Linked DNA regions of Homo sapiens: regions 2 and 3 are each linked to region 1. The links come from fine-mapping of genetic effects on gene expression. A gene starts in region 1. Each other region holds a variant in brackets. All regions are shown on one strand. Distances are between the middles of the regions. Region 1 holds the start of UROS (uroporphyrinogen III synthase). Region 2 overlaps FANK1 (fibronectin type III and ankyrin repeat domains 1). Region 3 has its middle 4.5 kb from the start of MMP21.

Region 1 (2,761 bases):
GGCTGCCCCAGGCTGCATCCCCACCTGCCACAGGGGCTGGCGCTCGCTCTGCAGTTGGCCGCAGTCCCCTCCACTCTTCTCTCCAAATAGGCTCGGGTCTTTAACCTAGACTACCCCACTGGCCCCGAAGCATTTTTTTTTTTTTTTAGATAGGGTCTACCTCTGTCGCCCAGGCTGGAGTGTGGAGTGCGGTGGCGCGATCTCGGCTCACTGCAACCTCCGTCTCCTGGGGGCATGCGATTCTCCTGCCTTAGCCTCCTGAGTAGCTGGGACTACAGGCGCGCACCACCACACCTGGCTAGTTTTTGTATTTTTAGTAGAGATGGGATTTCGCCATGTTGGGCAGGCTGGTCTCGAACTCCTGACCTCAAGTGATCCACCCATCTCGGCCTCCCAAAGTGCTGGGATTACAGGTGTCCGCCACCACGCCCGGCTAATTTTTGTACTTTTAGCAGAGATGAGGTTTTGCCATGTTGGCCAGGCTGGTCTCGAACTCCTGACCTCTGGTGATCCACCCGCTTTGACCTCCCTAAGTGCTGGGATTACAGGCGCGAGACACCGGGCCCGGCCCCCCGCCGAAGCATTTTTAACTGCGGTGCCGGCTTTAAAAAAACTTTTAGGTCAAGAAATGCGCTCCAGAAGCTCGGCGAGGGTAGGCTGGGCAGGCGCCTTCCGTCACCGGCGCAGCGGTAGCGGCAGCGGACATCCCCGCCTGGGCAGGCCCAGGTCCGCGGAAGCCTCGGGGCCCTGGCCCCACTGTGTCACACACCGCCCGGGGCCGGGCCCCTGCACGCCCGCGGGCTTCGGCGTCCGTACCGGTACAGCGGGCGGCGACACCTACCTCGCGGGACCGTGCCCAGCACCCGGCCTGGCACACAGCGGGCACCCGGTCGGGGGGCGGTGTCGCGCAGTCCCAGCGAAAAGGCTGCAGGAGCAATGACAACAGGGGCGGAAGCCCCCTCCCCACGCAGCCCGAGGGGCCGCGGCGGCCACCCGCGCCGGGCCCCAGGACCCCGCACCTCAGACTGGGGTCGCGTGGGTGGCTGCGCGCAGCTAGGCGCTCGCGCATGCGCACCGCCATCCAGGCCACGGAATGAGGCCAGAGGTTAGATGGGTTGAACCACTACGGGAAGGGGAGGGGAAGCTTTGGGAGGAGTGATGGAGGGTGGAAAGCGGAAGAAAAAAGCAAGATGGGACCGCAAGCTGGACGTGACTGTAAGGGGTCATGGCTGCGGAATCCAGCAGGGGCATTGGGGTTGACGTGCACTCAGCGCCGAGCTTCTTCGTAGTTCCTCACCCCCTTGGCTACTATGGGCTGGTCCGGAAGGTCAGGCAAGGGGAAGCTGCGCAGGCGCAGTGTGAGCGGCAACATGGCGTCCAGGTCTAAGCGGCGTGCCGTGGAAAGTGGGGTTCCGCAGCCGCCGGATCCCCCAGTCCAGCGCGACGAGGAAGAGGAAAAAGAAGTCGAAAATGAGGATGAAGACGATGATGACAGTGACAAGGAAAAGGATGAAGAGGACGAGGTCATTGACGAGGTGAGAAGGACACGCTCCCCTAGTTGGTTTATACCTGAGAAAAACTTTTTGGCAAGCCCAGGCTGTGTAAAAATAGTGTAGGGTCTTCCCTGACCCTGAGGGTCTGTGAGGAGAAACTGGAGATAAGTTCTTTCTCAGGTTTCTCCTCGGTCTTTAACACACTGCAGCCATAGTAGTTATTTTTTAAAGGTCTAGTCCGGTCCAGTTAATCTCCCAACCCGCGTCCTCCCCGAAAAAGCCCGCCACAACAGGTGTGTTCTTCTCGTCCTCTTTAGTTCTCAGGCTGAAGCCTCAGATCCTGAATCGGCCACCCCGGGCTCGCAGAGGGGGCCCTCTCCCCTCGGGGCAGCAGCTGTCCTCCTCTTCACTCTGCGGGCGGCACTCACTTGGGCCCTCAGTTTCTTGAAGGCTCTTGCCGCGTTCTACCGTAGAAGCCTTTTCAAATGCTCTTCTTTATCCTGCAGTTTTCCCTTCCTTCTTCAGATCTCAGCTAGGCTGTATTTTCTGGCTCCTGGGGCAGCTGACCAAGTCGTGGGTAAATCTTTGGTTTCATAGTCTCATAGAACTGTGTTCCTTTCTTCAGACTAGGTCCTACCGTAGTGCCTGGCAATATAGGTACTTATTATTTGTTTAGTAAACAATTAGGACTGAATGATCCTTCAGCCTACTGAATGTTTAAATAGATACCTCAGCCTTAACTTGTCCAAAGCAGAATTTGTATAATAATTCATGCCCCTCTCTTAATCGTCACCATTTCTATAAATGGCCCCTAAAGTCACCAGCTGCTCTAACCCAAAACCTGGGGCTTAACTTTAATTCCTCCCTTTCCTCATCCTATATCCAGCCCATCAGTAAATCCTGTTATCCAGACATTTCTCAGCACTAATTCTGAGACCATCGTAGTCCACACCTCTATCATCTCTTGCCTGGACTACTATTTAATGTAACAGCTTTTAACCGGCGTTCTTTTCTCCATTTTTGTTCCCCTACAATCAGTCTATACTCCACTTACAGTCAGAGAGATCTTATAGGTCTGATCTCAGGCCTCTGCTTAGATTGCTGCATTGGCTTTCTAGTTCATTTACAAGAAAATCAAGAGTCTTCACAATTGAGGGACGGAAAGGCAGCCTAGATGGCTGGATCAGAATAAGGAAGAGAGAGTGATAGGAAATAAAATCAGAGAGGTAATCATGAGTCATGATGAGCATGGAGGGGAGCATGGAGAG
Region 2 (2,761 bases), 97 kb after region 1:
AAACTGAGGCTCAGAAAGATTATTTATTTGAAGTCTTACATAGGCTTTATAATGTTATTCATGCACTCTTTATGCCCTAGATAGTTGGAGAAATTGCAGGGGAGAATCTCAGAAATAACTAAAATAATTGAAGATGTAATCAAGAAACAGAAGTACGTTTGAATAGAGACCAACTAAAGATGGCTGGGACTGGTTCAGTCTACATATAATTGAAAGGTAAATCACTAGGAAAGGGAAGGAGTCTCTGGGTTTCAAGATGAAATAGAAGTCATGAGAATTCTATAAATTTAAATTCAAGTTCACTGAAGAGAGCTAGGAGTCAGCTACTGTTTGCTACAGATAATATTCAGTAAGGAGCTAACTGCTAATGCATTGGCCTGGGGAAGTGTTTAATGTCAAATAGAAACCAACACTAGTAAAATACTTCCAGGAGGTAAGAATTTTTTTTTTTTTTTTTTTTTTTTTTTTGTGACAGAGTCTTGCTCTGTCCCGCAGGCTGGAGCGCAGTGGCATGATCTTGGCTCACTGCAACCTCCGCTTCCCGGTTTCAAGCAATTCTCCTGCCTCAGCCTCGCTAGTAGCTGGGATTACAGGCACACACCACCACACCCGGCTGATTTTTGTATTTTTAGTAGAGTTGGGGTTTCACCATGTTGGCCAGGCTGGTCTTGAACTCTCGACCTCAGGTGATCCTCCCCCCTTGGCCTCTCAAAGTGCTGGGATTACAGGTGTGAGCCACTGCGCCTGGCTGCTGCTCCTTTTTTTGTAATGGACCTGGGAGATCTTTATGAATGAGGGAAAGACTCATTTCTTTGAATAAGGCAGAATACTAAAGACTAGCCAGCCCTGAGGCTCATGGTGGTTGCTGTTATTCTGTTGAACGTGAACCCTAGCCTTTAGAAAGGAGCAAGTCTTTGTGGAATACACAGGATTTGAAGTGCATCAAAGGGGTGGAAACGCAGCTGACCATGATACCCTCAAGTGAGTTTTTCCACTGAATTTGATTATTTTCTCA[T/C]TTGGCACTTCTTTCTGGGCTTTCTAAGCAGCCCAAAAACTCTAGATGATTTTACTTTTGTAATTGTATTCTCTTGGGAATGCTCATTCCTGATTCCTCGTTTCACCAAACAGTAGGTGTGTAACCTTCTTATTTGTTTCTGCCTATAGTAATTCTGGAGTCTTTAAACAAAACGACTGTGACTTTTCATGATGAGTAGAAGATAGGTTTTACTCATGCTACAATCAATATTAATTCCTTGCAGTTCAAAGACACTGAGGCCCTGTCTAATAATACAGAGGTTGAACTTGGACTTGGGAGATGACTCCTGTCTCTCGTACTCTCTGTGGCTCTGCTTTCTGTTATTTTACTCATAAGCTTGTTTTGTCTCCTTGCTGAGAACTGTCAAACATGAAATGTAATTTCAGGCTATAGTGAAGAAGGATGACATAGGCCGAAAAAATTGGCAATCATTTGGCCTGTACATGTTGCTTTTATTTTTTTTCTGGACTTAAGATATAGACCAAACCTTGACATTTCTGGCCTTTGAGTCTTTCACAACTGTGATTATAATACATTAGCTCTTCTAGAAGTTAGAAGTGACTTTGGATTAAGTCTTTCATAAGGTGGCTAAATGAATTTATATGGCTCATCAGAATTCACTAGATTGGTTAAGCAGGAAATTTACAGAGATTTTTTTCTTTGCTGTAAATGTTTTTCTAAATTGAAAAACTTCTAATACTGTCTTCTGGAATACTAGAAATAAGTGCAAGTGATTGTTTTTGGCAGGAGGCCACATAAACATTTCTGCTTCTCTGTGACTTATGGGTAGCATTGATATAAATTGTTAAAAATAATGATCGTAGATAGATAATGTATCAGAGTTTGGGCTCAGCCGCTGTAGCTGCTGTTGACCCAGAGGAACCACTGGGATCCTCACATCTCAGGGCAGCACATCGTTTGCAGCAATGGTTGGTTCTGTACAACCTTTTATGAAATTAGGTGAGGCCCTTGATTAGAATTTGTTTTTTAAAAGGTTTAATATGAGTTTATATCTCTAAATATCAGTTTCTAATTTTTTTTAAAAGCCTATGTTTACAACAAATTTGGGAGATACCTATATGCACTACTAACTAGTGTTCTTTTGTGGTGCTTTAGAAATTCTGGCTTACTTGTATTTTTGCTGGCCTTCTAATGATTTCACTCATCAATCAGAAGATATTTGTGTCCACCTTCCTGCTTCCTCTCCGGTGATCTTGTCTATTCTTGGCCATTTTAGAGTTGACTTAGCAGCCTTCACAAAACTGGTTGGAATTTCCACTGGGATTAAATTGATAGGTCATTTTTGGGAGACCTTTGCAATATTGAACTTTCCAATCCGTGAACTTATCTGCCCATGTATTATGTTTGTTTTTGGTAGATTACAAAATTATATGATCACTCCAAAAATTACCTTGCCCTTTATAGTAAAACCTTCCATTGTAAACTTCTGGCAATCACTGATCTGTGTTCCTCTAGCATTGCTTTTTTTTCAGAATTTTATACAAATGGAATCGTTCAGGCTGTAGCCTTTGAGTCTGGCTACTTTCATGTACTGTATCAACAGTTATTCCTTTTTATTGCCAAATAGTAATCCATTGTATAAATACTACATGGTTTGCTTATTGGTTTGTCATTGGAGGAATATGGACTATTTTCACTTTTTGGTAAATTATAAGTGGATTGGAATTCACAAAGTGCTTTTTGTCTGAGCATAGGTTTTCATTT
Region 3 (2,761 bases), 43 kb before region 1:
CAGTCTAGTCTTTTCATGTTTTTCTGCCTGCTTTGTATTCTAGGAGCTGATTAGATGGTGCCCACCCAGATTAAGGGTGGGTCTGCCTGTCCCAGCCCACTGACCCAAATGCTAATCTCCTTTGGCAACACCCTCACAGACACACCCAGGATCAATACTTTACATCCTTCAATCGAATCAAGTGGACACTCAGTATTAACCATCACACCTACCCTCATGGAATGTAGATCCTAAGTAGGGAAGACAGACAATAAACAAAAAAGAAATGAAAAATTCCAATAGTGACAGGTGCTAGGAATAGAATTAGGGAAAGTGAGTGTCTATGGGGAAGAGTGAATGTTCAGGTGAGCAGGAAAGACCTCTTGTGCAGATGAAATCTGGGCAGTAGCAGAAAGATCAGAGGGACTCAGTCACATGTGACTGGGGGTTCGGGAGTGGTGTACATTTTAGGCCAGGAAAGGGCAAGTGCACAGGCCCTGAGGCTGGGACTGGCTGGGCAAACCTACAATAGTAGGGAAGAAAGAACAGCCTGGCTGGACATGAGTGGGAGGAGTGAGCTGGGAGGGGAGGATGAAGAGGAGCAGGTGAAGGTCAGATGGGGAAGGACCCATAGGGCAAATAAGGAGTCTGGGTTCACTGTAAGTTCAGGTGGAACATTTTGAGTGGACAATGCCAGGACTGGCTACTTATTAAAGAACCTCTGTGCAGTTCTGAGGTTGGTGTAGGCTGTGCCTCCTGGGGTGAAACCCTCTGGCTATCATCAACTCCTCTCTGTTTTTCTGACTGTGCCGCACCCTAGAACACTTTCCTGGGCTCTAGGACACCGGGCTTTCCGGGGAAGGCACAGTCCTACACTGTGACCCAGGGGATCCATTCCTCATTGGGCCCACACCGAATGCTGTGGGGGAAAGGTGGGACCTGGGATGCTGGGAAGGGGTGCTCAGGAGGAGCTTGGGCACCCACCACGATCCTTGTTCTGTTTGAAGACTGGCAGTTCTGTCCATTCCACCAGCTCTGGTCAAAGACTGTGCTTCTGAAAGTCAAATCTGAAAAGTTGCATGACAGCTCTCCCCAGTGGGGTAAGATGATTCCCCTTTGGGATTACTGTGGCTTAAACGTTTGTGTTCCCTCCACAATTCATGTTGAAACTTAATCCCCAGTGCAACCGTATTAAGAGGTGGGGCCTTGAGGAGGTGATTGAATCATAAGGCTCTACCATCCTGCCCTTAGAAGCCAGGCTTCAGAGAGCATTCAGCCCTTTGCCCGTCTGCCATATGAGGACACAGTGTTCAAGGCACCATCTGGCAACAGAAACCAGGCCCTCGTCAGACATCAAGTCTTGCTCTTGGACTTGCCAGCCTCCAGAACTGTGAAAATTTTTATTATTTATAAATGACCCAGTCTCAGGTGTTTTGGTATAGCATCACAAATGGACTAAGACAGAGATCACAGGCTTGAGGGCTTCATTACTGAAGGGTCTTGTTCCCTAAAGTTATTATTCTTTAAGAAACTTTATGGTGCGGTGGCCTC[A/G]TGCAGCTTGGGTGCTTGACTTGGGGAAGTATGTTCACCATGTGGATGTTTGCTCTTCTTTTGGAGGATTCTTCTCTCCGATTATTACTAAGCTTTGGAATGTACTGGCTGCTCAAGGCTGAGAATGTTTGATTAACCAAATTGCTCACTCCAGGTTAATTGGATTTCAAGGAAATCAATTGGATTTAGGAGGGAAAATGTCAGAGGAAGACACGTGACCTACAATAAAGACAACATGAGGGACAGGGGCTCCCGCACAAACTGGTTCCTGGTCTGTGCAGACCACCTCCCGTTCCTGAGGCGGGGCAAGGCTTTGGCTTGGAGCTTCTACAATCTCTGTAAGCCATGACATGCGTAACCTAATTGTCAGCGGGAGAACTGAAGTTTTTTTCCCCTAAAACATTCATCATTTACAAAGTGGATTTGCTTTTTTTTTTTTTTTTTTGAGATAGGGTCTCACTTTGTTACCCAGGCTGAGGAGCAGTGGCACAGTCACAGCTCAACTGCAGCCGTGACTTCTCTGGCTCAAGTGATCTTCCCACCTCAGCCTCCCGCAAGTAGCTGGGACTACAGGTGTGAGCCACCGTGCCCAGCTAATTTTTGTATGTTTTTGTAGAGGTATGGTTTTGCCATGTTGTCCAGGCTGGTCTTGAACTCCTGGGCTCAAGCAATCTGCCCACCTCGGCCTCCCAAAGTGTTGGGATTACAGGCATGAGCCACTGCACCCAGCCTGGATTTGCATATTCTTAGTATAGTTGGACAATAATATTTGGAAACAGTCATTCCCACAGGAGATCTTTGAGCCTTATGTTCAATGAGGGGTCAGTTCTGACTCTGAAAGTGAGCAGAGCTCAGGGGGCCCAGGTGCTGGGGAGTGATGCCATCAGCACCAGGGCAGGCCTGTTGTTTCCAGCTGCATAGCGTGCCTGAGACAGAAAGACCCTTCCCAGTGTCTGTCCTGATTCCCTTCTTTCCAGACTGCATTTTGGTCTCTTTTCATCCACAAATAAACCCTTTTCCCCATCTCTGGGCCGGCATAGGACCCTCGGCCTCCCTGGGGAGAACTGCTTGTGTTTTACACACATGAGAGTCTGCGTTTGGGGCTTGTTCCTCCCTGCAAAGGATGCACATGGAGGCTGCTCAGTGGTTGCGGGAGGGAGGCCCCGCTCACTACCCACCTGCACTTCTCTGCCAAGGCACACCCAGGCCTCCTGGCCTCCGGATGAGAATT

What was found. PIP is the estimated chance that this variant, and not a neighbour inherited with it, causes the effect. A credible set is the group of variants that fine-mapping cannot tell apart.
Region 2: its variant is the best candidate, but not a certain one, in a credible set for the expression of UROS in whole blood (INTERVAL, PIP 0.64).
Region 3: its variant is the best candidate, but not a certain one, in a credible set for the expression of UROS in whole blood (INTERVAL, PIP 0.54).

What each region holds. Positions count from the first base shown.
Region 1 is chr10:125,822,188-125,824,948 of GRCh38, forward strand. It overlaps UROS (uroporphyrinogen III synthase), which reads right to left and starts at 1,071. Exons shown (of 10, transcript NM_000375.3): 1 at 842-1,071. BCCIP (BRCA2 and CDKN1A interacting protein) reads left to right here and starts at 1,359. Exons shown (of 7, transcript NM_078468.3): 1 at 1,359-1,535. The coding sequence starts at 1,371. RefSeq lists silencers at 718-1,147, 1,904-2,123 and enhancers at 999-1,684, 1,228-1,427.
Region 2 is chr10:125,918,756-125,921,516 of GRCh38, forward strand. All of the region lies in intron 1 of FANK1 (fibronectin type III and ankyrin repeat domains 1), which reads left to right. Among named protein-coding and RNA genes, the nearest start is that of FANK1, 24 kb to the left of the region's middle. The variant T/C (reference allele first, on the strand shown) is at 1,016.
Region 3 is chr10:125,778,988-125,781,748 of GRCh38, forward strand. No RefSeq gene overlaps it. Among named protein-coding and RNA genes, the nearest start is that of MMP21, 4.5 kb to the left of the region's middle. The variant A/G (reference allele first, on the strand shown) is at 1,531.